Linked DNA regions of Homo sapiens. The protein of the gene in region 1 purifies or fractionates together with the protein of each later gene. This does not show direct contact. Each region holds a gene or a part of one and is shown on either strand. Other genes may lie near its edges.

The links.
Region 2: the proteins of HSF2 (region 1) and ALDH3A1 purify together in Homo sapiens (affinity purification with mass spectrometry; one large-scale study listed by BioGRID and IntAct). This does not show direct contact.
Region 3: the proteins of HSF2 (region 1) and ZC3H14 purify together in Homo sapiens (affinity purification with mass spectrometry; one large-scale study listed by BioGRID and IntAct). This does not show direct contact.
Region 4: the proteins of HSF2 (region 1) and ACP3 purify together in Homo sapiens (affinity purification with mass spectrometry; one large-scale study listed by BioGRID and IntAct). This does not show direct contact.
Region 5: the proteins of HSF2 (region 1) and USP49 purify together in Homo sapiens (affinity purification with a luminescence readout; one large-scale study listed by IntAct). This does not show direct contact.
Region 6: the proteins of HSF2 (region 1) and ANKLE2 purify together in Homo sapiens (affinity purification with mass spectrometry; one large-scale study listed by BioGRID and IntAct). This does not show direct contact.
Region 7: the proteins of HSF2 (region 1) and A2ML1 purify together in Homo sapiens (affinity purification with mass spectrometry; one large-scale study listed by BioGRID and IntAct). This does not show direct contact.

What each region holds. Positions count from the first base shown.
Region 1 is NC_000006.12:122,413,008-122,417,112, forward strand, and holds part of HSF2 (heat shock factor protein 2), read left to right. Parts: intron 1-517; coding exon 518-642; intron 643-3,213; coding exon 3,214-3,289; intron 3,290-4,105. UniProt on the Homo sapiens protein: DNA-binding protein that specifically binds heat shock promoter elements (HSE) and activates transcription. In higher eukaryotes, HSF is unable to bind to the HSE unless the cells are heat shocked.
Region 2 is NC_000017.11:19,738,084-19,742,188, reverse strand, and holds part of ALDH3A1 (aldehyde dehydrogenase, dimeric NADP-preferring), read left to right. Parts: coding exon 1-185; intron 186-978; coding exon 979-1,096; intron 1,097-1,711; coding exon 1,712-1,853; intron 1,854-2,514; coding exon 2,515-2,681; intron 2,682-3,093; coding exon 3,094-3,193; intron 3,194-3,735; coding exon 3,736-3,866; intron 3,867-3,953; coding exon 3,954-3,968; 3' UTR 3,969-4,105. UniProt on the Homo sapiens protein: ALDHs play a major role in the detoxification of alcohol-derived acetaldehyde. They are involved in the metabolism of corticosteroids, biogenic amines, neurotransmitters, and lipid peroxidation.
Region 3 is NC_000014.9:88,604,344-88,608,448, reverse strand, and holds part of ZC3H14 (zinc finger CCCH domain-containing protein 14), read right to left. Parts: intron 1,207-4,105; coding exon 1,086-1,206; intron 1-1,085. UniProt on the Homo sapiens protein: RNA-binding protein involved in the biogenesis of circular RNAs (circRNAs), which are produced by back-splicing circularization of pre-mRNAs.
Region 4 is NC_000003.12:132,323,568-132,327,672, reverse strand, and holds part of ACP3 (prostatic acid phosphatase isoform PAP precursor), read right to left. Parts: intron 1-4,105. UniProt on the Homo sapiens protein: A non-specific tyrosine phosphatase that dephosphorylates a diverse number of substrates under acidic conditions (pH 4-6) including alkyl, aryl, and acyl orthophosphate monoesters and phosphorylated proteins.
Region 5 is NC_000006.12:41,794,376-41,798,480, reverse strand, and holds part of USP49 (ubiquitin carboxyl-terminal hydrolase 49), read left to right. Parts: exon of another isoform or gene 1-836; intron 837-1,757; coding exon 1,758-1,948; 3' UTR 1,949-4,105. UniProt on the Homo sapiens protein: Deubiquitinase that plays a role in several cellular processes including transcriptional regulation, cell cycle progression or innate immunity.
Region 6 is NC_000012.12:132,748,320-132,752,424, reverse strand, and holds part of ANKLE2 (ankyrin repeat and LEM domain-containing protein 2), read left to right. Parts: intron 1-1,575; coding exon 1,576-1,782; intron 1,783-4,093; coding exon 4,094-4,105. UniProt on the Homo sapiens protein: Involved in mitotic nuclear envelope reassembly by promoting dephosphorylation of BAF/BANF1 during mitotic exit.
Region 7 is NC_000012.12:8,846,533-8,850,637, reverse strand, and holds part of A2ML1 (alpha-2-macroglobulin-like protein 1 isoform 1 precursor), read right to left. Parts: intron 3,129-4,105; coding exon of another isoform or gene 3,090-3,128; coding exon 2,940-3,089; intron 1,919-2,939; coding exon 1,724-1,918; intron 970-1,723; coding exon 879-969; intron 479-878; coding exon 364-478; intron 1-363. UniProt on the Homo sapiens protein: Is able to inhibit all four classes of proteinases by a unique 'trapping' mechanism. This protein has a peptide stretch, called the 'bait region' which contains specific cleavage sites for different proteinases.

The DNA.
Region 1 (4,105 bases):
ACATCCAGTACCTACAATAAGTCTCTTCTAATAATATAAATATGCCCACATAGTAGGCATTCAGAAATACATTCAGTAATATATTTTTTAATGCATAATATCTTTTGGTAAAATAAGATATTTTACTAAATCTGTAAAAGGGGTGGACCATGAAAGAAAATGGCCTAGCATGAACCTTTTACTGCATAAATTTAATTAAATGTGGAATGTGGTAATAAAGAGGCTTGGGGGAAATTGCAAGGAGCTTGGCATAAGGGGAGAATAAAAGACTCTAAGATATTCCTGCTTGCGGAAACTTTTTAACATTAAAAAAAAATTTTTTTTAAGTAGATTATTCCTTGCGTTCTCTCCCATTGAGCTCTGAAGTTTATTCTTTCCCTAGCATTTCATCCCGGGCTTTTGGAACCAGATCTCACTTCCTGAACAGGCTACGAAAACCTCTTCTAATAGGGAAGCTTTGAATTACAATCATGGGTGTTTACTGTTTCTTTGATTTTCTAAATTTACTTTTTCAAAGGTTTCATCTTCAAAACCAGAAGAAAATAAAATTCGTCAGGAAGATTTAACAAAAATTATAAGTAGTGCTCAGAAGGTTCAGATAAAACAGGAAACTATTGAGTCCAGGCTTTCTGAATTAAAAAGGTAAAGTGTTATTTCCAAATATAATTTTAATCTGGGAATTGGGTATGTGTCTATGTGTGTTGAGTTTGGAGGTTGTCTGATGTTTTATTGTAAGTACTCAGATCACTTTGTTGAAGCCAAGATCAAAGGTCATTTTTCTGCAAGTATTGGTTCCCTTTACTTTGATTTGTGGCCACTGACTTTACTCTAATATTGTTTTAATTATGATAGTCAGAAGAAGATATAAACCTAAGCGTATCAAAACAGTTTGATGTATAAGTCTTAGCAATAAACAGTAGGTCTTTAAGATGATGTAGGAAATATGATTCTATTTAGGTTAGCTCATATGGTGCTCATAGACAATGAGGGCATACGACATAAAAACCCTGTATGTTACCCATCCTTTGTTTAATGGCTGTCTCTTAAGATTTCTTTGTGTGGACTCTTAGGAAAAAGTAGGACACAAAAAAATCGGAAAACGATGCAGGAGAGTTGCCATGCTTGATACTTATTTCGTATAGACTTGGAAAAGTGTTATTCAGAGCTTTTATCTACAGAAAGATGCTTCGTTTTATTTTACTACATTTCTTGGTTACCATTATTGTAACTTGCCATACTAATAACTTGTGTATAGAGTAGATAGTGTATTACTCTTCTTAGTAAGTAGCTGGAATTTTTCTGTATCCTAATAGGTGCCAAGGGCTTAAGAGTGGTTACTTTACATATTCTCTCTTCCATATCAGATGTGAGACGTTACTTTAGTTAATCATAACTCAAATATCTTCATTAAAAGAGGAACCTATAACTTTGATTTCTTTTTTAAATAAGCTTTAGGCTTTCTCTTCTTGTGTATTTAACAACTTGTTTACTGTATGTATCTTGTGTATACTAGCTGCTCTTTGACCCAGTTCCTTGGGACCACAGTTTCAGCCTTTAAAGAAAGTGATCCCCAAATCATTTTTTGTACCTTAGAGGGAACTTTCTTCTCCTTATCTTTTTGTTTGTTTGTTTTTGTTTTGAGACAGTCTCACTCTGTTACCCAGTCTGGAGTGCAGTGACTTGATCTTACCTCACTGCAATCTCCGCCTGCCGGTTCAAGCGATTCTTGTGCCTCAGCCTCCCTAGTAGCTGGGATTACAGGCATGTGCCAGCTAATTTTTGTATTTTTAGTAGAGATGGGGTTTCACTGTGTTGGCCAGGCTGTTCTCAAACTCCTGACCTCAAGTGATCCGCCCACATCGGCCTTTCAAAGTGCTGGAATTACAGGCACGAGCCACCGCACCCAGCCCTACTTATCTTTATTTAGTAAGCAGATAACAACATTTTTTAATTTGAATCAGAAAAATACAGTAGTTATTCAGTAAATATTAAAATCTCCTTTGGTATACCCTTATATGTAAATCTCCAGTTCCTTTTATATTAGTTTGGATTAAAGAAGATGACTTGTGGAGAATAACAAAAGATGGAAAATTAAAGCATTTAATAGGTATTCAGCATTCTCCGTGCTGCGAACATTTAACAACATAATGCAGTTTCAATTAAAAAAGGTGAACGAAGAAGAAGCTATTCATATTTGGCAAGTTATTAGTTTATTATTGGATATGCTTTTTCAGAATAACATTTTAGTGGTTTACATATGCTGTTGTTTGAGATAGATCTTAAGATAGTTTTAGAATCTGACAGACTTTAGTTTGATTTCAACACTTACCAAATTATTTGTATGATCTTGAGCAGTTCCCCTCAATTCTCTGTACCTCAGTGTCCTCATCTATAAAATAGAGATGATGACTTATTTCTTGGTGGTTTTTAGAGAAATTTTAAATAAGTAATACACATAAAATGTCTAGCATAGTGCTTAGAGTATAGTAAGTGCTGGGTATATATCACTACCCTTTATTTCCTAAGGTGATTAGGAAGGCCTGAATTCACTTGGTAACCACAGTTGAAAGATTAGCTTATTTTTTTTTAAGCAAAAAATAATGAGCCAGATTGTCAAAAGTAGTAAATTGCCAACTACTATATTGATGTAGGCATATGTCTTAAGTTTCTGTGTATCTATTGTCATGAGTAGCAGATACTACACTTAGGAAGGAATGATTCTGGTGCTGGGTGCGGTGGCTCATGCCTGTAATCGCAGCACTTTGGGAGGCCGAGGTGGGTGGATCACCTGAGGTCAGGAGTTTGAGATCAGCCTGGCCAACATGGCAAAACCCCGTTTCTACTAAAAATACAAAAAAAATTAGCTGGTTGTGGTGGCACATGCCTGTAATCCCAGCTACTTAGGAAGCTGAGGCACGAGAATTGCTTGAACCCTGGAGGTGAAGGTTGCAATGAGCCGAGATCGTACCACTGCACTTCAGCCTGGGCGACAGAGCAAAGCTACACCTTTTTTTTAAAAAAAGAATGATTCAGGAGTTGTGTCAAGGTAGTTGTCATTCCTATGTAATTGAACCAAAGTTTTCTTGGTCTCATAAATACATATAGTAAAAACAAGTGTAGTTCAGTTGTCTGGTATTCTTAATTAAAGATACTATGGTCTGGTTTTTTGATTGATTTTTTTTTTGTTTTGTTGCTTAATAAATTATAACATAGTGAGAATGAGTCCCTTTGGAAGGAGGTGTCAGAATTACGAGCAAAGCATGCACAACAGCAACAAGTTATTCGAAAGGTAAGAAGCTCTTTTCCCCAGGACCATAATTTGCATTTGTTTAATGAGTACTGTTTGTGACCCAAAAAGGTCTTTATTGAGTGTCTGTGATTGATCTTAGTTTCTTACATATTGGATGCACAGATAGAAGTAAAAAATGAAATGAAATTAAGCCAAGTGTTACACATTTTTAATAAAAAATTTCTCACTAGCTAAAGATGGTTATTCCATACTCGCAGATAATGTCTCAGTAGCTTTTAGTAAATGATCTTTTGCCTAATATAACAATTTTGAAATACTTTATTTTTATGAGCATAATGAATACACTACCAATTTCTTTTAAAATTAGAAAACATAGCCTTACTGGTTTTTTTTGTTGGTTTTTATTATAAAAGGCATAGTTAAGGTCTCAGAAGATAAATGACAAATATTTTCAAATCAGTTGACCAAATTATGAGTTCAGAAAATGATTTCTCAATGTATGCTGTTATTAGTCTGTGGAGAAAAGCAGTTAACATAGTGTTGTAAAATGAATTTTAGATTTTAGTATCTGAGCTGAAAATTTAATAGAGGAGTTGGAATCCCTCCGTTTCATTGTGTCCTTGTGATTTAATCTTTGCATATCAGCTTTCATTTGCTAATAAGAGATGAAACATAGTAATTAAGGCAGCTATTTTTTGCTCATGAGTAAACTAGACTCTGAGTTTAAGCAACAGGTTTTTTGAGGGGGAGCTTCTGATTGCTCCTGCTTAGAAGGCCCTTGAACTAAAAATAGGGTTGTGACTGACAGGATCAGGGTCTAATGGAGAAGGCTTTAAAGCAGAGATGAGTAGCAGT
Region 2 (4,105 bases), on another chromosome or scaffold:
GGTGTCCCTGAGACCACGGAGCTGCTCAAGGAGAGGTTCGACCATATCCTGTACACGGGCAGCACGGGGGTGGGGAAGATCATCATGACGGCTGCTGCCAAGCACCTGACCCCTGTCACGCTGGAGCTGGGAGGGAAGAGTCCCTGCTACGTGGACAAGAACTGTGACCTGGACGTGGCCTGCCGGTGAGAGGCACGGGCCTGCTGGCTGCAGCAGTCCTTACTCTGCTTTCCAAGCACACATGACTGCACCTCATGCTGTGGGTCCACTCTGAGTAACACAGACACCCCCTGCCTCATGGAGCAGTGGTCCTTGCAGAAACTTACATGGGGGTAGGGGTGGGGACCACATGCACAGAAGACGTGTGGGGAGTCCCAGAAGGCTTCCTGGAGGGGGAGAGGTCTAGGCTGAGCTCTGTTTGCTGAGTGCGCATCACTGGGGAAGTGGTACTCCAAGCAGAGGCTGCAGAAAAAGCAGCTGTGGGACGTTCAGGACACAAGGAACTGTACTGGGTTCAGCCCTCTGATGGGGCAGGGCAATCTGAGTTCTGGAGAGCAGGCCCAGAGGGGAGAAGGGCCACCGCTGCTCGGGGTCTGGGGCAGAACCCGTATCTGCACCTCCTGACCCTAGCCAGGGCTCTGACCACCTCCATATCCCACATCTGTGGCCCCAGAGATGTAGGGGGGCCCGAGTAGCAGTGACACCTGGCTGTGCAGGACAAGGGCGTGATCAGGGAGCACGGAGGTTGCCCTCAACAGACGTCCTCTAGAAATTCCCCACCAGTCGCCGGTGAACATGATCAGGGCCATTGGGTCTGCTCGGTCCAGTGTCTAGAAGTGAGCAGACCGCTTGGGAGGACTCACTGGTGGCAAGGTCACAGCCGATGGCTTCTGCTGACCAGAGAGCTCAGGGGTCTGCAAAACGAGATGCAACTCCTGGGGAACCTTTTGGATTTAGTCCAGTCTGGGATTCTCACAGACGCATCGCCTGGGGGAAATTCATGAACAGTGGCCAGACCTGCGTGGCCCCTGACTACATCCTCTGTGACCCCTCGATCCAGAACCAAATTGTGGAGAAGCTCAAGAAGTCACTGAAAGTGAGTGTTGACCCCTTGGCAGGGTGGGATGAGAGGCTGTAAGGCACAAGGGGGGCCTGGCCCCTTAACCAACTTCTACAGATTTGGAAACACTGGATTTATTTTCTTCTAATATAAACATAATGCAAGCTAGGCATGGTGGCTCACACCGGTAATCCCAGCACTTTGGGAGGTAGAGAGTGGAGGATCACTTGAGGCCAGAAGTTTGAGACCAGCCTGGGTAACATAGCAAGATCCCATCTTTACAAAATATGTTTTTAAATTAGCCAAGCATGGTGGCATGGTGGTGCATGCCTGTTGTCTCAGCTACTTAGAAGGCTACGGCGAGGCTGGAGCATTGCTTGGGCCCAGGAGTTTGAGGCTGCAGTGAGCTATGATTGCACCACTGCACTCCAGCCTGGGCAACAGAACAAGACCCTGTCTCTAAGAGAAAAAAAAAAGATAATGCACACTCACTATAGATTATTTAGAAAAGATTAAAAAGCATAAAGAAGAAAAAAGCTCCACCCAGAATCCCACCACCCAAAGACAGACACTGCTGGCCTGTGTCTGTGCAGCCTTTGGGCAGGACGAGGCTCTGCGTCCTTACCCGAAGCCCCCACCTCTTCTCCACAGGAGTTCTACGGGGAAGATGCTAAGAAATCCCGGGACTATGGAAGAATCATTAGTGCCCGGCACTTCCAGAGGGTGATGGGCCTGATTGAGGGCCAGAAGGTGGCTTATGGGGGCACCGGGGATGCCGCCACTCGCTACATAGGTGCGTGACCCCTGAAGAGCACAGCCCACCTGCCCAGGCTGCAGGGGTCCCCAGCAAGTTCACAGCAAGTGGGCACAGATGCTTGATAAGCGGACACGACCTCGGGATGGGTATAAATTGCTTTCACCAGGGAGCCTGCGGTAGACTCCAGCAGGCAGGGGCTGAGGACAGCCCCTGCTTCAACCTCAGAATCCCCTCTCCCAGCAAAGGCCCAGAAAGAGGGGCCTCATCTCCCTGCCCCTCTGAAGCAGCAGGAGCAGGGACAGCAGAAGCCACAGGAGCCCCAGGTGTGCCCAGCCGTGAGGGGCCCCCAGTGCCCAGGCTGTGGGTCACCAGATGGGACCCTCTTGGCCCCGAGTTTGTCAAGGAGACAAGAGAATTCTGGCAGGGCATCAGGTGGCCGGCAGGTGCAGTGCCTGCTCCTGGAGACAGATCTCGGGTCCTTCCGTACAGGTTAACCTATAGTTGTCCCCAGTGGTCTGCTCAGATGGCATCCAGGACGCAGGTGCCTAGGGTACCTCTCTGAGGCCTCGTCCCTGCCCTTTTCCAAGCCTGGGCAGGTTTGCCTGGAAAAGGGTTGGAGCAGGGGTCTAGGTGCTTGCACTTTCCATCCGCGTGGGGGTCTCTGCGCCGTCCAACTCTGGCTTGTTTCCTGCCTCAGCCCCCACCATCCTCACGGACGTGGACCCCCAGTCCCCGGTGATGCAAGAGGAGATCTTCGGGCCTGTGCTGCCCATCGTGTGCGTGCGCAGCCTGGAGGAGGCCATCCAGTTCATCAACCAGCGTGAGAAGCCCCTGGCCCTCTACATGTTCTCCAGCAACGACAAGGTGGGTGGTGGGCCTGGGGTGCCCTCTGCCAGGGTCCTGGGGCCCACAGACCTGGGTTCAAACTGCAGCTTCACTGTTCTCTGGCTGTGTGACCTTGGGCAAGTCACTGGATCTTTCTGAGCTCCTTTCACCTCGTCTGTAAGATCAGGACAGCAGCATCACCTGAGGGCACTGAATGAGCGATCCTTGCCCAGGGCCCTGCACACAGGCATGGGGGCGGCTGCTGTCACTCTTTGCTCATGTGGTGCTGACAGCCACGCGGTCTGCAGGAAGAGCAGGAGATGGAGGCTAAGGCTCTGCCTCCACCTGCTCCTGTCCTTGTGGCTCCAGGCTATACCCAGGCAGGGTCGGGTTGGGGGCTGGGGCATCCTGTGGGCAGGAGACTGAGGCCAGTGGCTGGGTCCTGGTGCAGGTGATTAAGAAGATGATTGCAGAGACATCCAGTGGTGGGGTGGCGGCCAACGATGTCATCGTCCACATCACCTTGCACTCTCTGCCCTTCGGGGGCGTGGGTGAGTCTGGGGCTGAGCTTGCTGCCTCCCTCTGGGCCCCAGGGCTGGGCACACTCACCCAGCAAATTCAGGAGGGACCACCTCCTGCAGCCCGGGCGGCAGCCTCCCATTAGCCTCTTCCATTTGGACCTTGGCCTCTGCGTGCCATCCATCAGACACACTTAACCTGGGAGCCTAGAGGTTCCTAGAGGTCACCTGGTGCACCGGCCTATTTCATGGAGGCCTGAGAAAGGTGACCCAGGCCAGAGGTCACACAGCCATTTAGTGGCAGAGCTGGGATTAGACCCTTGCTGGGCACTCCCACAGTGTGGATGCCCTGGGGACACCCTAGACATTGGCCACCCTCAGGAGGCCCAGAAAAGGGCCACAACCTGGGGCTGGGTGCTGAGGGCCATAGGATTTGAGGGAAGGATGGGTGATGGTGGCTGGGGCTCTGCCTCCCTGTCCCTGTGGTTCTGGGATACACCCAACAAGGTGGAGAGGGAAACCTGGGGCGTCCTGGGGGCAGGATGCTGAGCCCTGTGCTTACTTCTCCTCCGCAGGGAACAGCGGCATGGGATCCTACCATGGCAAGAAGAGCTTCGAGACTTTCTCTCACCGCCGCTCTTGCCTGGTGAGGCCTCTGATGAATGATGAAGGCCTGAAGGTCAGATACCCCCCGAGCCCGGCCAAGGTGAGAGGGGGAAGGCGCTGTGGGGGAGACCGGGCTGTGCGGGACCAGGGCCTGGGGATCACTGCCCACTCCGTGTCCCTTTCACAGATGACCCAGCACTGAGGAGGGGTTGCTCCGCCTGGCCTGGCCATACTGTGTCCCATCGGAGTGCGGACCACCCTCACTGGCTCTCCTGGCCCTGGGAGAATCGCTCCTGCAGCCCCAGCCCAGCCCCACTCCTCTGCTGACCTGCTGACCTG
Region 3 (4,105 bases), on another chromosome or scaffold:
AAACTTGTCCACAGAAAAACAAAAACAAAATAAGGTGTAAGATACAGACACTAAACTGAAAGCCAAAATCAGCTGGCTATGACTTGCAGGGTGAGATGGGGATGGTATTCACTTGCAGGATGAGATGGGGATGGTATTCACTTGCAGGGTGAGATGGGGGATGGTATTCACTTGCAGGGTGAGATGGGGATGGTATTCACTTGCAGGGTGAGATGGGGATGGTATTCACTTGCAGGGTAAGATGGGGGATGGTACTTGCAGGGTGAGATGGGGGATGGTACTTGCAGGGTGAGATGGGGGATGGTACTTGCAGGATGAGATGGGGGGATGGTACTCACTTGCAGGGTGAGATGATACTTGCAGGGTGAGATGGGGGATGGTACTTGCAGGGTGAGATGGGGGATGGTACTTGCAAGGTGAGATGGGGGATGGTACTCACTTGCAGGGTGAGATGGGGGATGGTACTTGCAGGGTGAGATGGGGGATGGTACTCAATTGCAGGGTGAGATGGGGGATGGTACTTGCAGGGTGAGGTGGGGGATGATACTTGCAGGGTGAGATGGGGATGGTACTTGCAGGGTGAGATAGGGGATGGTACTTGCAGGCTGAGGTGGGGGATGGTACTTGCAGGCTGAGGTGGGGGATGGTACTTGCAGGGTGAAGTGGGTGATGGTACTTGCAGGGTAAGATGGGGGATGGTACTCGCACTTACAGGGCTAGATGGGGGATGATACTTGCAGGGTGAGATGAGGGGGTGGTACTTGCAGGGTGAGATGAGATGGTACTTGCAGGGTGAAATGCAGGGATGGTACTCACTTGCAGGGTGAGATGGGATGGTAGTTACAGGGTGAGATGGGGAGATGGTACTTGCAGGGTGAGATGGGGGATGGTACTTGCAGGGTGAAATGGGATGGTACTTGCAGGGTGAGATGGGATGGTACTCACTTGAGGGTTGAGATGTGGGGGATGGTACTTGCTGGGTGAGATGGGATGGTACTTGCCAGGTGAGATGGGGGATGGTACTTGCAGGGTGAGATGGGGGGATGGTACTCACTTGCAGGGTGAGATGGGGGGATGGTACTCACTTGCAGGGTGAGATGGGGTGATGGTAGGCACACTCATCCCCATTTTTACAAGCAGGCCAGTACTTGCAGCGCTCCAAAAGTTTTTCTGGTTTCTGTGCCACACTCAGTTCACTCATCTCAGCTACAAAGGGAAAGGAAATAAAAGTATTTCATTCATTATGATCAATTCAGTACACAGCACCTTTAACATATTTCCCTCAAACCTGTCTTAGAATCTTCTGTTAAATGTACAGTCATATAAAATAAGTGAGCTCAAATTATGGGATTAACACTGGCCATAGAATCCTATAAAAGGTTGCCAGGAAGAAGACAACAGTTCTCACTGTGAAAAGGAAAGAGGACAGTGACTCTGCAACTACGGCCAAATTTTTCACCAAAAATTCTAATTCTCAATACTAATTCATAGCTGAATTAAAAATAGAGAAGGACGTCAAGTGGGGAACTAATAAAATTAAATAAAAACTGAAAACAGGTAAGGTGATAAGGAGATGTGAATCCTCACACGCCAGCAAGATGATGAGTGGCCCAAATACAAAAGGATTCCCACCTGCTGAGCTGTAAGTCCAGGTGCGAAACTCAGCAATGTCTTTTACTTTTTTTTTTTTTTTTTTTTTTTACGACAGGGTCCTGCTCTGTCACCCAGGATGGAGTACAGTGGTGTGCCAGTGGTGTAATCTCGGCTCACTGCAACCTCTGCCTCCCAGGCTCAAGTGATACTCCCACCTCAGCCCCTACCAAGTAGCACGTGCCACCACGCCTGGCTACAGGGTTTCCCCACGTTGCCCAGGCTGGTCTTGAACTCCAGGACTTAAGCGATCCACCCACCTCGGCCTCCCAAAGTGCTGGGATTATAGGCATGAGCCACCGCGCTCAGCCAGCAATGTCTAAAAAGGGGAAAACATTTTTACCTACAATGGGGTCACAAATGCCATCACTTACAGAGACTGGGCAGTTCCCCTAACAGCAAGACTGACTGGGCTGAAGATGATAAATGCAATAAGGGACAGACGGGGAGCAGCAGCCTGGAAAGCAAGTGCACACCCATCCACTCCACTCCCTGTGCCACATCCAATCACAGCTTCGATTACTATGACAGGGCAAAGTGGGACCCCTGTTGCCAGATTTTTATCCTGTTTCAGTAAGCCAAAAATCTGCCTTCATCGAAATTGTAATGCTGGCAATTTATTAAATAACACTGAATAAGTAAAATTACAGCTACAGGCAATAATCAGCTGCTAATTTCTGGACTGAGACACCTTAAACTCCCCACAAAATAGCATCATGGGTATTATGTATTATGGTTCACATTCATGTTCATGAAAGCAAGTATCACTTCAACTGTATTCCTCTAGTCCTCTTGCCAGAGGTCAGTTAAAATCTGACTCTGCCACTTAGTTGCTCAGCCAGACACTCTGTGCAAATGTTAGCTAACTTTTTGGAATTCTGTTTCCTCATCTATACAAAGAGAAAATAATGTCTTCCTTAGAGTCTGATGATTAAACGGAAAAAATGCAAAACAGGCAACCAGTCGTAATAGCAGCAGCAGCTAGTTCTATGAGTACTTACTGTTCCAGTGACCCACATTCTGTCCTCACTACAGGAGAACAAGGCACACAAATGTAGTCATGCAGCCCAGATAGGAGCAGCATCAAAGAGCAATTATGACTATGCCTGATACAAACAGTTTTCTATGCTACTTTAAAAATAGTAAAAGTCCTATTTAAGCTTTAAATAGGATGTGGTGGCTCATGCCTGTAACCCCAGCACTTTGGGAGGCCGAGGCGGGCAGATCACTTGAGCTCAGGAGTTTCAGACCAGCCTGGGCAACATGGTGAAACCCCATCTCTACAAAAAATACAAAAAATTAGCCAGGCATGGTGGTGTGCACCTGTAGTAACCAACTACTCAGGAGGCTGAGGTGGGAGAATCACTTGAGCCTGGGAGGTGGAGGCTGCAGTGAGCCATGACTGTGCCAATGCACTCCAGCCTGGGCAACAGGAGGGATACCCTTTCTAAAAACAAAACAGTATAAGTCATTTTAGTTCTAAGATACAAGAATAATCGGTTCCAAAGAAAATGTGAGATGACTGGAAGTTTCTCTAATTTTTACAGGTTTTTTGTGTCATCCCCGCAAAGTAAATGTGTCTTACCCTTTTCCTATAATAAATTACACACAGCAGACTATAATATATACACAAGAACCCAGTACAAATAAAAGATTAAGAGAATACCCAAGAGAAGCCTAGCTGGAAAGCAAAGTAGCTAGATACTCAGGAACAATATAATACTTTACAAAGAAATGTGATTATTACAATAATACCTTACAAAGAAACTTTATCTTTCTTTTAAAAACATTAAGTCATACGAAGGTCATGCCCCTAGTCTTCACTGGCTGACACCGACTTTGTAAACTATTAAAACTTTCTGTTCAAATTTTAAGAGGCAAATTCACCTTTTATTGAAAGCTATAGGCCAGGCACGGTGGCTCACACCTGTAATCCCAGAACTTTGGGAGGCCGAGGTTGGTGGATCACTTGAGGTCAGGAGTTGGAGATTAGCCTGACCAACATGGTAAAACCCCGTCTCTACTTAAACTACAAAATTAGCCAGGTGTGATGGTGCATGCCTGTAATCCCAGCTACTTGGGAGACTGAGGCAGAAGAATGGCTTTCAACCTGGAAGGCAGAAGTTGCAGTGAGCTGAGATGGCTCCATTGCACTCCAGCCTGGGGGACAGAGAGACTCTATCTCAAAAAAAAAAAAAACAAAGAAAGCAAGCTATAAAATCTGTGCTGCCATATGACAGTGAGTGAAAAGACAGCAGGTTAAAACAGATGTTGTTGTTGGTAGCATCCTTGAAACAACCCAACATAAAACCAACCAGAAGCAATTGCAGTTTCAAACTCCCTGCTCACAGGGGAAGTGGTGCAGAGACTAGAGACTCCTGAGAACTGTTCTGCAGGAGTCTCTCCAGCCACACCCCTATGCTAATCTTACAAAGCTTCATCCTTGAGCAGCAGG
Region 4 (4,105 bases), on another chromosome or scaffold:
TAATTTTTTTATTTTTAGTAGAGATGGAGTTTCACCATGTTGGCCAGGCTGGTCTTGAACTCCTGACCTCAGGTGGTCCACTTGCCTCGGCCTTCCAAAGTGCTGGGATTACAGGTGTGAGCCACCGTGCCCAACTAGTATAACTTTTTTTTTTTTTTCGAGACTGAGTCTTGCTCTGTCATCTAGGCTGGAGTGCAATGGCACCATCTTGGCTCGCTGTAGCCTCTGCCTCCCAGGTTCAAGTGATTCTCATGCCTCAGCCTCCCGAGAAGCTGGGATTACAGGCACACGCCACCACACCCAGCTAATCTTTGTATTTTTAGTAGAGATGGGGTTTCACCATGTTGGCCAGGCTGGTCTTGAACTCCTGACCTAGTGATCCACCTGCCTTGGCCTCCCAAAGTGCTGGGATTACAGGCATGAGCCACCACACCTGGCAACATTTTATATACAATAAAAATAATAGATTTTTAACACCACATACAATTTGTGACCATTTTGAGCCAATGATTTGTTCATTTTTTGGAGATTAGGAGTAAAAGATTGCAGGTGGGGAGGTTAGGAAAGCTAATTCTCAATACTTTAATAACATACTTCTATATTTGTACCCATGTCATGCTATTGTGATTGCACATTTCTCTTTGGGAAGAGTAGTCTGGACTTTTGAAATCTTGGTGCTTTGATTCTAATATGCTTTCTCAGTATAATATCAAACCAAACACAAAGCCATCTTATGAGCAAAAGATAAGGAAAGAAAACACTGAAGAACTACAAGATGAAGTCTACACTGATGTCAGCAAATATTTTTAATATAGAGACAGCTGCATAACACCTTGATTTATCTGAGGTTACCCGCACCTGTACTTATACTACCTGGCTAAAATGTTCCATTGAAAAGTAAGCTAAGAACCTGCTCTTTTGAAATTCTGTAAAACAGAATTCAATAGACATTAAATAAGAAAACAGTCTCAGACTTTAGTCATTTTTGAGAAGGAATTCCAAGAAAGTGGGAGATGCTTGGTTTGTGTCTCTAATATCTGAAGAAAACAGATCTTTTGGCCCTTTAAACTAGTGACAAATTAAAACTTCGGTAGAGTAGTCTACAGAAACAGGGGCAATGATGCAATAAATGTTAAGCGATCATTTTGGTCAGGTGAGAAATTACTTTCATGAATGATCCCCTGAAGGCAGGAAGGACAGCTGCATATTTTTTTGTGAGCACCTGCAGTTACTAGTCTCAGGGGTGACTTGGTCATGATCAGAAATGATTATGGTTAATCATTGATGCCTCTTTCCACAATTGAAGTACATTTTAGAGTTTTTATATCCCAGGTAAATGTGTCTTTGAATAACTAAAGTTGTTACATGGTTTCAATAAATTACAAACCCCACACTGTTTTAGTTTCTAGGGCTTCTCAACCTCAGCATTGTTGACATTTTGGGCTAGATAATTCTTTGTTGTGGGGGTTGTCCTGTGCATTGTAGAATGTCTAGCAGCATCCCTAGCCTTTACCCACCGGATGCCAGTAACATTCCCCAGCTGTGACAACTGAAAAAGGCACATTTTCTGCCATAGGGGCAGAAAATCACCCCAAGTTGAGAGCCACTGAGTTAGCCAAAGAGAAGTCAGGTGAGAGACATTGTAATAAAATAATTTACATTGCTTCCCACCAACCTATAACCACAACGGTAACTCCTTAACATTTTTTGAACACTCACTTTGTCCTGGAAACTGTGCTAAGTGCTTCTCATAGATGTAATCTTCTCATCAGTTCCACAAAGCAGTTACTATTATTATTTCCATTTCACAAATGAGGAAGTTTAGCTTAATTAAGTGACCTGTCTAAACTCACACAGCATGTAAGAAGTGGTAGAGCTGATATTCAAACACAGGCTGTGCCTCCAACTCCAGCATACTTAACCACCTGTGAGAGGTTCATTTCTGTATGATCACACTCCTCACAGTCCCACCAGCTAAATCTGAATGGTCTGGGATCTAACGCTTCTTTATTAACTCTACTTAGTATACTCTTTTCCTCTAGGATTGGAAGGGGTGTGTGTGTGTGTGTGTGTGTGTTTTGTATCAGAAGAAACCAAAACCTTGATACGGAAACTACCCCGAAGGCACTGTGAACTATGTATATTATTGAAAGAATAGAACTGAGGTTATGCAACTAAATGACAGAATGGCCTGAGAGAGAAAAACAAGTGTGGTCACCTTAGCAGAGTGTTTTGAAGAGCAGAGAACTGGAACATAATCATGAGACTTGGGCAAACTTTCTCACTCTGGCCCATAGTTCAGAAATAATTGTACTCCCCTACATTTCAGTAGGTTTTAAGTGTTTCCAAGGTAGTTGCTCAAACATGCTGTCAACCCTTTGGAAGGGATGTCCTGGAGAAACACTTAATAAACCATTCTCCACTTCCAGGGCTGGAAATCAAAATGTGTGCACACACCCCTCCCGCAGGCAAATGTGAAGCTGGTGTTCCTTGAGCTTTTGGAGTTTCAAAATTCAGCTGGAGTTCTTGGACTATGCGAAGACATTCTTTTAATTCTGTGGTAGAGCAATCTTCTTAACTGCTGCTCTACCAATTATTACCTCTGTGCTCAGTCCAGCAATCATACTCTATGAAATCCTTTAAAAACCTAAAAATACTTTATTAGCAATTAGGATTTTTGCAGTAGTAGTGGTAATTGTAATAGAAAGACATCCAAGATAATAACAATTCCTGGCCAGGCACAGTGGCTCATGCCTATAATCCCAGCACTTTGGGAGGCTGAGGCAGGCGGATCATGAGGTCAGGAGATCAAGACTATCCTGGCCAACATGGTGAAACCCCATCTCTACTAAAAATACAAAAATTAGCTGGGTGTGGTGGCGCATGCCTGTAGTCCCAGCTACTCGGGAGACTGAGGCAGGAGAATCACTTGAACCTGGGAGGCAGAGGTTGCAGTAAGCCGAGATCGTGCCACTGCACTTCAGCCTGGTGACAGAGTGAGACTCCGTCTCAAAATAAATAAATAAAAATAAAAAAAAATAATAATTCCTTACATTTGCACAACCCTCCATGGTTTGTAGAATTTTCCCCTGCTACCTCTTTTAATTATTACATCCCCGTCTGAGGACAGGTTGGCACTACTGCTGCACTGAGCAAGTAAGAAAACTATATGATCAAAGAGATCATGTAGCTGTCCAGATCTCCTAATTCTCATGATAGTTGGCCCACTGTTTCCCCATCATACTACAATCACTTCACACTTTTAAATCATAGGTAACTGTTTTTAAAAGGACTTTTGGTTTGGTGCCCCCATGAATGAACCTGCTCCACTGAATCTGCTAAACAAATCTGGCATGTGGCTTAGGGTGTGGAGAACCTGGTGAGTACAGTCGAGGCTATATCCAGTGGAAAATGTAAAGATATACAAAAGTGGAGTTTTTTTTTTTTTTTTTTTGAGATGGAGTCCTGCTCTTGTTGCCCAGGCTGGAGTGCAATGGCATGATCTTGGCTCACTGCAACCTCTGCCTCCCAGGTTCAAGTGATTTTCCTGCCTCACCCTCCCAAGTAGCTGGGATTACAAGCACCTGCCACCACGCCTGGCTAATTTTTGTATTTTTAGTAGAGACGGGGTTTCGCCATGTTGGCCAGGCTGGTCTCGAACTCCCGACCTCAGGTGATCCACTCGCCTTGGCCTCCCAAAGTGTTGGGATTACAGGCGTGAGCCACTGTGCCCAGCCTAAAAGTGGAGATTTTTATCATGAGCCCACCACTGTCTCCAACAATTATCAACTTGTATGTGGCTAGTCTTGTTTCTTTTATATCCTCATCACTCTTAGATATTATATCATGTTCTATTGCTCTTTGCATAAATTAAAGGTCCTTACAAGGGCTCACAAGATCTTACCTGATCTGGTCCCTACCCACCTTGATATTCTCACCTTGATGTCCTCAGCTTACCCACATGGGCCCTCCTGCTGTTACATCCAATATACTAAATTTGCTGAAGCCTCAGGGCCTTTGCTCTTGATGTCCTGTCTGCTTTGAATGTCTCAAGTCTGCGTCTTCTCTCAGCATACACACCACTCATCAATTTGAGGTCTGTCCT
Region 5 (4,105 bases), about 81 Mb from region 1:
AACATGGTTAAACCCCGTCTCTACTAAAATAGTACAAAAATTAGCCGGGCGTGGTGGTGGGCACTGGTAATCCCAGGTACTCAAGAGGCTGAGGCAGGAGAATCGCTTGAACCTGGGAGGCAGAGGTTGCAGTGAGCCAAGATTATGCCACTGCACTTCAGCCTGGGTGACAGAGCAAGACTCTTATCTCAAAAAAAATAAAAAGAATTATGAAAGTTGGATTCAAATTTTGGGTATATTACTAAGTAACAACATATGGTTGTTCTAAGAATTAAAAGGAACTGACATGTAAAAGTGCTTAGAACAGGACCTAGGCCCTGTGCAATGGCTCACACCTGTAATTCCAACACTTTGGGAGGCAGAGGCGGGAGGATTGCTTGAGGCCGAGGGTTCAAGACTAGCCTGGGCAACATAGCGAGACTGCATCTCTACAAAAAATTTAAAAATTATCCAGGTGTAATGGTGTGCACCTGTGATCCTAGCTACTTGGGAGGCTGAGGTGGGAGAATTGCTCAAGCCCAGGAGTTTGAAGTTGCAATGAGCTATGATTTCACCACTGCATTCTAGCCTGGGCAACAGAGTGAGATCCTGACTCAAATAAATAAATAAGAAGAGCAGTTGCCTACCACATAGTACTTATTCAGTCAGTGTTAGAGGATATTGTAGTATTATCAAAAGTATTGGTTATTGATAATATTACTGTTTTGTGGTAATGCTACTTCTGCACACCCCAGTTTCCTTCTTGGTTATGCAGAAACAGTAGAACCTGTGTAACCTCAAGGAGATATTGTATGAATCTCACTAGCCGCAGCTTATAATAAAGCCGAGAACATTTACTGAGCACTTACTATGTTCTTACTACTTCCCCTGCCATGGGAAGTGTGGGGATGCAAGGGCCCCTCCAAAGGAGCTTTAGGTCCTCATCCTCCAGAGTGGAGTCTTCCAGCTACTGCACTGACTGATGGGCTGCAGATGTGTTTTCAGCTGTTCACTCTTCTTGAACTGCACAGCCCTTGGGGCAGCCAGAGCTTGTGAATAAATACTTTTTTGTTCCTTCTAAATTTTCCTTCATCACTCCCCTCTATTTCCATTTCTCCTCTCCTCCTCCTCTTCCTCCTCATCTCCCCATTGCTTAGCCTGCAGTATCGCAGCTCTTTCTAGAAGGCCCTAGTGGACAATGAAAAAGCCTGAAGAAAACAAAGATAAAAATTGCAGTCAGTCGGCTGGGTGCGGTGGCTCACGCCTGTAATCCCAGCACTCTGGGAGGCCGAGGCGGGCGGATCACGAGGTCAGGAGGTCGAGACCATCCTGGCTAACATGGTGAAGCCCCGTCTCTACTAAAAATACAAAGAATTAGCCGGGCGTGGTGGTGGGCACCTGTAGTCCCAGCTACTCGAGAGGCTGAGGCAGGAGAATGGCAGGAGAATGGCGTGAACCTGGGAGGTGGAGCTTGCAGTGAGCCGAGAACCCACCACTGCACTCCAGCCTGGGTGACAGAGCGAGACTCTGTCTCAAAAAAAAAAAAAAAAAAAAAATTGCAGTCAGTCGATAAGCAGTACCGTGGGGCTTGGTGGGGTTAAAGCCAGTGGATACACAAAAGTCTGTCAGTTTCATTTACCTGTCCCTTCCCCACCAATAATCGAGGGTTGGCTCTATTCAGAACTTCTCTGTCCCTTTCTTCATCTCCTGATTTTGCCTGCTGACTAAAATATGAATTGGGTAGTCATTTTCTCTCTTTTTCTCCTTTGGTTTCCTAGGTTTTTGGGTCCACTGCAATGACTCAAAGCTGAATGTATGCAGTGTCGAGGAAGTGTGCAAAACCCAGGCCTACATCCTTTTTTACACTCAAAGAACAGTGCAGGGCAATGCAAGAATCTCAGAAACCCATCTCCAAGCTCAGGTGCAGTCCAGCAACAATGATGAAGGCAGACCACAGACATTTTCCTGAATGGGAGGCATGTATCAAAGACTGGCTTTTGTGTATTGGTGTCCATACATCTTTCCTCTTATAGGAAATAAGGCTACTGCAGGAACAGATTACTAGGTTTGCCTTGCTGGGTCTAGAGTAGAAGGTGCCAGGTGATTCGTGTCCTGTCGTAAATTTTATAGTCTCTTTCTTTTGAATGAGTTTGGGAGTTCCCTCCTTTCCTAAAAACAAAAGAAGTAACTTCTATGAAGATCCTTTCATCAGTTGCTTCTGAATATAGAGGGATCTGGGTGGAGGAAAGCGGGGCGGGGGGGTAAATCAATCATATCCACACAGGAGAGCAGCCATGTTTTCTCTCCATGATGTGATTCCCCTGCTAATCAGGACCTCCTTGCAGCACCAGAAGAACCCTCCGGATGTGAGCAGTCCTGGACAGAGCACGTGAGGAGGGGCCCTGGGCTAGCAGTTTGCTGGATGGGATTGGCTCCAAGATGGGAGATGAAGTCTAAAGGGTTTATTCCCACAAAGGAAGTAACCTTCAAGGGTTTAAAACAAACTTCCTTTTTTGGGGATAGCAGCTGAAGAGTGGAGTGAGATGCATGGAACAAATTTCCCCATGCAAAGTGGGATGGTTTTCATATGTCATACCCTCCCTACTTGCTGCTGTCATATAATCATTCCATACTTCTGAGACTGGCATGAATACCCCTTCATTCTAAAGAAGGGGCAGGTCATATAAAGAAGCAATAGACTAGCACATGTTCCATGCTGAGCCAAAGGACACTCCTGGCTATCTCAGTTCTGTAGCAGATCCCTGGTTCAGGTCTAGGGCAAGCACATGGTTTGGTTTAAATTGATTCTTAGGTTTTCTCAGAACTCAATTGAGGGTGGGCAGAGATAGCTGATGCTCCAGGGCTTATTGAAGGCCTGTCACCCGTTCTCACTTCAGTGCGGCATGCAGCTTCTTAGCCTGCAGCTTCTTTCTTGCTCCTGGAGAGCTAGAACATTCATGTTCACAGGGTTTGGGAGCTTTTGGTTCTCTAGGGTATGTTAACTGCTTAGGAGTCCACCTCGTACATATCTGAAGAGTTGATTACCAATGGCCTTGACCTGTTTCCTCCCAAATCTGATAATCCCTACTGTTGCTTTACCCCCCATACTCAGTCCATCAGAGAAAAAAACAAGAGTGCCCCGTCCTTTCCCCCAGTGCTAGTAAAATACATCTTCCTTTTTAAATTGGGTCAGTTTCTAAACAGAATGAAATTGCCCAGATAAAAACCCTTGTCCCCATCAGGCACCACTTCATTCTTAGTTCTTCACTTAGATTTGCTGGTGAAAGTGAATGCAAACCCTAACTTTTGTTGCTGTGGTCACTGCAGTGAGCCTCACTCAACCTGTCACTATGAATGCTCATCTTTTGACTGAGTATATCATATTAATGTTTGAATTCAGGTAGAAGTACAGTTGTCACTTGAAGGGAGTAGATGTGGAAGGGCGTTCGGGGAGGAGTGGGAAGTGGGGAAAGCCAGGCTAAAGAATGAGGGTTATAGCTTTAGCAATGTTGATGAGCCACATTTCCCACACAGATCTGTAGCATTTGCTGTTGACCTCTTTTGAGATGAACTCTCCCATAGGCCCTGCCAGGCAGCACTGAGACATGGAGGAAATTCAGACAAAAAATGGCTCACCCTGATAGGGAAGGAGTGACTATATTTTAAATTAAACTTGCTTTTTCCAACACTGTGAGGTTTCTGTAATATTTAGCTTTTATTTGGAAGCGATAGCGTATGGCATTTTTTATGCTGTTTGGTTTATATTGTCTACTGCAGGCTTCTTTGTATAAGCTTTGCCTGGGCTCACCCTCTCCTGGACACTGTTTTAAAGTGTCACCGCTGTCCATGCTGCCAGAGGCTCTGATGTGAAGCTGTACTCTCAAGATCCACGTTTTTAAGTCGGCATGATTAGTAATGACTTTTTGTGGCAATAGAAAAGCCCATTAACTCAAAAAAACCAAGGAGAGTAAAAAGGAAAGGAAACTATGAATCGTGCCTCATCTTTCATTGAATCCTATATTTATTATTCTAGAAAAAAAGAACTTACAAGATAGAGAAGAACTAATAGAGCATCTACTTTACCCCTCAGGCTGTCCAGTGGGGATAATTATTAATAAACATTTAA
Region 6 (4,105 bases), on another chromosome or scaffold:
ATCTCAAAAAAAAGAAAGTAACACTGGGAAATGATCATGGTGCAGTTTTTATTTTTATTATTTATTTATTTATTTACTTATTATTTGAGACAGAGTCCCGGTCTGTCGCCAGGCCGGAGTGCAGTGGTGCGATCTTGGCTCACTCCAACCTCTGCCTTTTGGGTTCCAGTGATTTTCCTGCTGCAGCCTCCCGAGTAGCTAGTACTACAGGGGTGTGCCACCACGCCCGGCTAATTTTATATTTTTAGTAGAGACAGGGTTTCTCCACGTTGGTCAGGCTGGTCTCAAACTCTCAACGTCAGGTGATCCACCTGCCTCAGCCTCCCAAAGTGCTGGGATTACAGGCGTGAGCCACCGTGCCCGAACTATGGCTATTTTTATCCAGTAGTGGACAGTAACCATTCGTCTGTTACATTGTTCATAAATTTTTGTCTCCTGGCCAGTAGTGTATATCTTATGTATTTACGATAGTCTCATACAAAACTTAATTGTGATAGTTCCACTACAGAGCTTTAATATTTTTATATAATCAGGATTATCTTGTTTTGAATGGTTTCTTGGCATGTTTAAAAAGGCATTCCCAGCCGGGTACAGTGGCTCATGCCTGTAATCCCAGCACTTTGGGAGGCTGAGGTGGGCAGGTCACCTAAGGTCAGGAGTTCAAGACTAGCCTGGCCAACATGGTGAAACCCCGTCTCTACTAAAAATACAACAATTAGCCAGGCATGGTGGCCGGTGCCTATAATCCCAGCTACACGGGAGGCTGAGACGGGAGAATCGCTTGGACCTGGGAGATGATGGTCGCAGTGAGCCAAGATCACACCACTGCACTCCAGCCTCGGCAGCTGAGTGAGACTCCATGTCAAAAAAAAACAGCCATTCCCGGCTGGGCGCCGTGGCTGACACCTGTAATCCCAGCACTCTGGGAGGCCGAGGCGGACAGATCACCTGAGGTCAGGAGTTTGAGACCAGCCTGGCCAACATGATGAAACCCCGTCTCTACTAAAAATACAAAAAATTAGGCATGGTGGCGGATGCCCATAATCCCAGCTACTCGGGAGGCTGAGGCGGGAGAATCGCTTGAACCTGGGAGGCAGAGGTTGCAAGAGCCAAGATCGTGCCACTGCACTTGAGCTTGAGCGACAGAGCGAGACTCCGTCTCCAAAAAAAAAAATAAAGTAAAAAATAAAAAGGCGTTCCCTGTTCAAAATTGTGTTTAAAATTCTCTTATGTTCTTGGCTGACATAATTATAGTTTTTTTTTTTAATTTGCCTTTTAATAATTTTTATTTAGATCTTTATATGAAATTTAGTTTTTAGGATAGAATCTTGGCATATAGAATTACATATATGAACATAATATATATCATGTTACATGCATATATGCACACTGTCGAGCTTGTTAATTGTTCTATTTTGGCTAGCTTAGGCCCTTTTTCTTCAGGATTAAAGATCTGAACTAAGCCAGGCGACTGGGTAGCAGATGTGGAAGCTGATGGTTAGGCCCAGGGCATGGCCAGGTGACAGCTCTCCAGTCACTCTTCTCTGATTTTCATTTGTTACTTTTCTTACCCAGAAAGGATCTATGTTTATGAAAATAAAAAGGAAGCATTGCAAGCTGTCAAGATGATCAAAGGGTCCCGATTTAAAGCTTTTTCTACCAGAGAAGACGCTGAGAAATTTGCTAGAGGAATTTGTGATTATTTCCCTTCTCCAAGCAAAACGTCCTTACCACTGTCTCCTGTGAAAACAGCTCCACTCTTTAGCAATGACAGGTTGAAAGGTAAATCATGCAGCCGTTCACATCTTGATGTTCCTGTCACATTGATCCCACCCTGTTTTGTGCCTTCTTTCCTCTGATGTGGTAACTTGTTTTCTCCATGAGGGTAGAGTCGATGGGGTCTCAGTGGACCAGGAGGCCATGCTGGCTCTGATGCTCGTGTAATTAGCATCTTGACTCTGGAGAAGCTGAAAAGAACGCTGTGGCCGCTTCCATCTGTCCCCGTGTCTGTTGGATTTTTTTCTTTTTTTTTTGTAAAGAGACAGGGTCTTGTTCTTTTGCCAGCCTGGAGTGCAGTCTGGTGCTATCATGGCCCACTGCAGCCTCAAACTCCTGGGCTTAAGCAATCCACCTGCTTTAGCCTCCCAAGTAGCTGAGAAATAGGCGTGCACCACCACACCCAGCTAATTTAAACTTTTTCTTTTTTTTTTTTTTTTTTTTGAGATGGAGTCTTGCTCTGTCGCCCAGGCTGGAGTGCAGTGGTGCGATCTTGGCTCACTGCAAGCTCCACCTCCCGGGTTCAAGCGATTCTCCTGCCTCAGCCTCCCGAGTAGCTGGGATTACAGGTGCACACTGCCACACCCGGCTAATGTTTGTATTTTTAGCCACCATGTTGGCCAGGCTAGAATTTAAACTTTTTTTATGGAGACAGGGTCTTGCCATGTTGCCAAGGCTGGTTGAATTGCTGGCATCAAGTGATCCTCCCATCTCAGCCTCCCAAAGTGCTGGGATGACAGGCGTGAGCCCCTGCGCCTTTTTGGATCCTGAAACCAGTCTACTTCCCCACCTGAAGCTATACCTACTTCAAGGACTAGGGCATCTGGAGAAGGCGGGCTTATCTGTAGGAGCGGTCCAGCCCGAAGTCTGACCCATGCCCACCTCCCAGCTCAGAACTAGGGTTTTGTGTGAAGAGGCTCTTCACGGTCAGTGTGGGGTAGAACCTCCGCCTTTACCTTTCATCTGGCCTCAGTTCCTGCTCCCTCTCGCAGCTCACAGTTGTCTGGGCTTCCCTGGCGGGCTGGTACTCCAGAGGAATGTTGCCCTCTCCTTCCAGTCATCCGCCTGCCCTCAGTCAGCCTTATACAGGTGCTTCCTGGATGGAAACCAGAGTGGCTTCTAACAGGTACGGATTTCCTTCTTTGCAATTTGTGAGGATTCCTCAGAAGGAAATCACCTTAAGACAGAAATCAGGCCGGGCGAGGTGGCTCACGCCTGTGATCCCAGCACTTTGGGAGGCTGAGGCGGGTGGATCATCTCAGGTCAGGAGTTTGAGACCAGCCTGGCCTACATGGTGAAACCCCGTCTCTATTAAAAATACGAAAATTAGCTGGCCGTGGTGGCAGGTGCCTGTAATCCCAGCTACTTGGGAGGCTGAGGCAGGAGAATTGCTTGAAACTGGAAGGCGGAGGTTGCAGTGAGCTGAGATCGCGCCACTGCACTCCAGCCTGGGCGAAAGAGCAAAACTGCGTCCCCCCCAAAAAAATCAGCTGGGCGTGGTGGCAGGCTCCTTAATCCTGTAATCCTTTGCAGCCACACTGTGCACATCGAAGGTCTTGCGTGATTTCTGGGAGTGTTCCCTTGCCCGCTGCTGCCGTTATTCCTCCTCCACCTACTGACCGAGCTTTCAGAGTTCACTGGCCGGGTGTGGTGACTCGTCCCTGTAATTACAACACTTTTGGGGGCTGAGGCAGAAGGATCCCTTGAAGCCAGGAGTTTGAGACCAGCCTGGGCAACATAGACCTCATCTCTAAAAATACGTGTGTATATATATATATATATATATATGTATATAAGCCAGGCGTGTTGGCATACAACTGTAGTCCCAGCTACTTGAGGGCCTGAGATCACTTGAGCCCAGGAGGTCGAGGCTGCAGTGAGCTATATTCGTGCCACCACACTCCAGCCTGGGTAACAGAGCCAGACCCTGTCTCTGAAAAAACACAAAGTTCACCAAACTTGGCCTCATTCACAGAGCCTTTCCCAGCAAGATTGTGGCAGGGTCTGGCTGCTCTTCCACTTGCTGTGCTCATGGGGGCGCGCTGGCTGCCGTTGTAGGCTGGGGCCCCCAGTGAGATTGTGGCCGGGTCTGGCTGCTCTCCCTCACTTGCTCTGCTGACGGGCACGCTGGCTGCCATTGATTGCGTTGCATGCTGGGGCCGGTGGCCGTGGGCCCTTCTCGTCTTTTCTCACCTGTGCCTCCCAGTTGGCCCAGAAGCCTCTGTGGAAAGCTGCTTATCCCTCATCAGAGGGTGCATGGGTGATGAGTGACTTTTGGTGAAACTGATTGTTCTTAAATTCTGTCTCTTACTGACAGATGGTTTGTGCT
Region 7 (4,105 bases), on another chromosome or scaffold:
CTCTACATTGCAGAATCTTACTGTTTTTTTTCTGGGTTTGTTGTTGTCGTTGTCGTTGTTGATTTTGAGAAGGGTTTTGCTCTGTCACCCAAGCAGGAGTGAAGCAATGTGATCTTGCTTCACTGCAGCCTCCACCTCCCAGACTCAAGTGATCCTTCCACCTCAGCCTTCCAAGTAGGACACAACTACCATCTGGCTATTTTTTTAATTTCTTTTGTAGAGACAGAAGCTCATTATGTTGCCCAGGCTGGTCTTGAACTCCTGGTCTCAAGTGATCCTCCCTCCTAAGCCTCCCAAAGTGTTGGGATTACAGGCGTGAGCCATGCACCTGGCCCTTTACTGTACTTTTGAGTCATCACTTACCCAATAGGAAACAGATCCCAGAGCCAGGTCTCTGGGAAGTACTGGCGGACCTGAGAATCCTCTGCTTGATGTAAAGGAGTTGATGACTCAAAAGCCTCTGGATGACCACCGCCTGCTGATGAAATTGAGAATACGAAAACTTTAGGAAACAGGAGACTTCTTGTTGTGACATAAATTGGGATGGAGGGATTACTAGAAAGAAATTTAGAGGGAAGCAGAGAACATCCAGTCAGAGGCAAGGAGGAAGGACCAAAGAGGAACTAACTAGTCACAAAGGCCATCGAGGGAAGTGATAGCCAAGGAGGTTTGGCCGGGGAATGGATACATAAGCTTCAGGCTTCAAAAGCTCTCCCCAGAGAGAGAACACTTGGGAAACTGTCCTGCATCTGTGACCCACAACCCATTAGCATTCTCGGGCTAGAGGCTCAGTGCAAGAACAGGAGGCAAGAGGAAATCTGCAGAGTTCCAGGACTGTTAACATCTCAGAGAATCCACAGACCACAGAGGTGGCTTACCACCCATAGCAGTGCTGTATTCTGGAGATCTGTGACTGCAATCTACTGGCTTCTTGATTTTGGCATTGGACAGTATTTTCAGGCCCACGTCCTGATAGGCATCAGAGAAATAAGTATTAAGGTGGTCCCTTCCCCAACTACAAGGGCTACTGCCCAGGAATTCCACCATCAAAGAGTTGAAACAAAACATTCTTTTTGAATTAATGGTGAACCTGGGTGTTCTTACCTGAAACTCAGCCACTGAGGCTGGTTGGCTTCTGTTCCAGCTAGCATGAAAGGCTTTCAGTTAAACTTATTTCATCATTACATACATGTAATGGTTCTGCCAAATATTATTCGCTATGTCCTTACTATTTGACTTACGCTGTAAACATGCTGAGGGTAGGGACCATATCAGCGTACTCAATTCAACAAAAATACAATGAGCCTTATGAAGGGTCAGGCATTAGAGAGAATACAAAGATGAACAAGACCTAGTTCCTGACCTCAGGGACCTCCTGGTCAGACTTGGGTCACACAGCATCCCAAATCCTGCTCATAGAATAGGTGCAAATTATTTTTTATAATAATGATAAGAGACCTCTGGTCTACCTTCTCTAATTTTCCCTCCTGATTGATCTCATGGAAATCAGTGTTTGAGGACAACAAAAAGAGGAAGACTAGGTTGGACATCTTCTTCAAGCATAAGGGCCAACAGAGGCGACCTTACACGTCAGAAGCTTCTTTCAAGATTTTGTTCCCATCAGTGCCCATATGAGTCTCTCTGCTTTCTTAGATATGAACTTTCCTTTGCCCATTCCCACCACCATCTTTCCCATAAGAACAAAATGGGTAAGAAGACCTACCCGGAAAAAGCTGAAAAGGTCCGTGCCTTCAGAGAACGAGGGCCTCCAGATAATGGAACGCTGGCTCGAATGCCCTTGGGGCATTGGGTCAATGAGGGGCTGAGGAAAGTCCCATGGGCCAGACACTGGACACTGATCATACTCAGCCACTTGATAGGGGTAGTGACCATACCAGAATGGAAACATCCCATAGACCTGGGACAAGAGGGGGAGAGGAAATAAAGCATTGATATAGTGATATCAGTTGAGAAACTTCTCTCAGATTCTGGTGCTCAGTTCACTACTCCTGTATCATTTCTCTTTATTACTTCAGAATTATTTTTATATTCATTCTGTCATAATTACCTTTCTCACTGTCTAAAACTTTAACCTCTATCTCACCTATTTTTTCATAATCCTATCCCCTATTTCGTTCTCTTTCTTGTTTTTTTTTTGAGACGGAGTCTTGCTCTGTCGCCCAGATTGAAGTGCAGTGGGACGATCTCGGCTCACTGCAACCTCTGCCTCCCGGGTTCACGCAATTCTCCTGCCTCAGCCTCCTGAGTAGTTGGGATTACAGGCATGCGCCACCATGCCTGGCTAATTTTTGTATTTTTAGTAGAGACAGGGTTTCACCATGTTGGTCAGGCTGGTCTTGAACCCCAGACCTCAGGTGATCTGCCTGCCTTGGTCTCCTAAAGTTCTGGGATTACAGGCTCATTCTCTTTTCTTGTCTCTGCATTCATACTAACCATGCCTTTCTCTTATCCTTTCTTTTTTTGTTTTTGTTTTTTTTTTTTTGTTTTTGAGACAGAGTTTTGCTCTTGTTGCCCAGGCTGGAGGGCAATGATACAACCTCCGCCTCCCAGGTTCAAGTGATTCTCCTGCCTCAGCCTCCCCAGGATTACAGGCATGGGCCCATGCCCAGTTAATTTTTTTTTTTTTTTTCTGGATTTTTAGTAGAGACAGAGTTTCTCCATGTTGGTCAGGCTGGTCTCGAACTCCCGACCTCAGGTGATCTGCCAGCCTCGGCCTCACAAAGCACTGGGATTACAGGCGTGAGCCACCGTGCCCAGCCCTCTTACACTTTCTAACTTCATTTTCACACCAGCCTTTTTACCGCCTTATGGCAGTGCATTATTTCCCTAAGACTTTCTCTCCCCTGCCTGAAACCTACCTCTTAATTGTCTTCTCCATCAACTCCCTCCTCCCACTCTGTCAGCAGACAGTTACTCACAGAGCGGTTGCTCAGCTCTCTGTCTGGCCTAAGCAGTAAGACACTCTCATCCACCGCCCGGAGCGCACACAGGGATCCGGGAGCTGCCTGCAGCTGCAGCTCCACTTCTGCTCCTGGAAGCTGCTGGGAGGGGGAGAAGCCAAGGGAAACCTGGGGAAGGGAAAGGTATAACTTGGGGATCAGGTCAGCCTGGAAAGGAAGGGAAACAACATAATTTGGGTCATCAGCAAATATGCCCCAGCTATGACATCCAACCCATTCTTTCACTTTTGTACTTATCTTTCTTTGTAAAGTCTAGCTCTTCAGGACGTGTATGCCGTGATAGAGTTGGGAAACGTGAGCAGCACAGTAGAAGGATAGAGAAAGTTTAGAAGACAAAAAGTAGAGAGAACATGTGGAATAACTATATAGAACATGTGGCTTCCCAGTATGGCTTTTTTTTTTTTTTTTTTTAATAGAGACAGGGTCATGCCTGTAATCCCAGCACATTGGGAGGCCAAGGCAGGTGGATGACCTGAGGTCAGGAGTTCAAGACCAGCCTGGCTAACATGGTGAAACCCCGTCTCTACTAAAAATACAAAAAAAAAAAAAAAAAAAAAAGCCAGGCATGGTGGTGCATACTTGTAATCCCAGCTACTCGGGAGTCTGAGGCAAGAGAATCACTTGAACCCAGGAGGCAGAGGTTGCAGTGAGCCGAGATCGCACCATTGCACTCCAGCCTGGGCAACAAGAGGAAAGCTCTGTCTATAAAAAATAAAAAAAATAGACAGGGTCTCGCTCTGCAGCCTTGAACTCCTGGGCTCAAGCGATACACCTGCTTCAGCCTTCCGACTAGCTGGGACTACAGGTATGCATCACCACACTCAACTAATTTTTTTTTTTTTTTTTGAGACAGAGTCTCACTCTGTCACTCAGGCTGGAGTGTAATGGTGTGTTCTTTGCTCACTGCAACCTCCGTCTCCTGGGTTCATGCAATTCTCCTGCCTCAGCCTCCCAAGTAGCTGGGATTGCAGGCATCCACCACCATGCTTGGCTAATTTTTGTATTTTTAGTAGAGACACGGTTTCACCAGGCTGGTCTTGAACTCCTAGCATCAGGTGATCCACCCACCTCGGCCTCCCAAAGTGCTGCACACCCAGCTAATTAAAAATTTTTTTGTACAGACA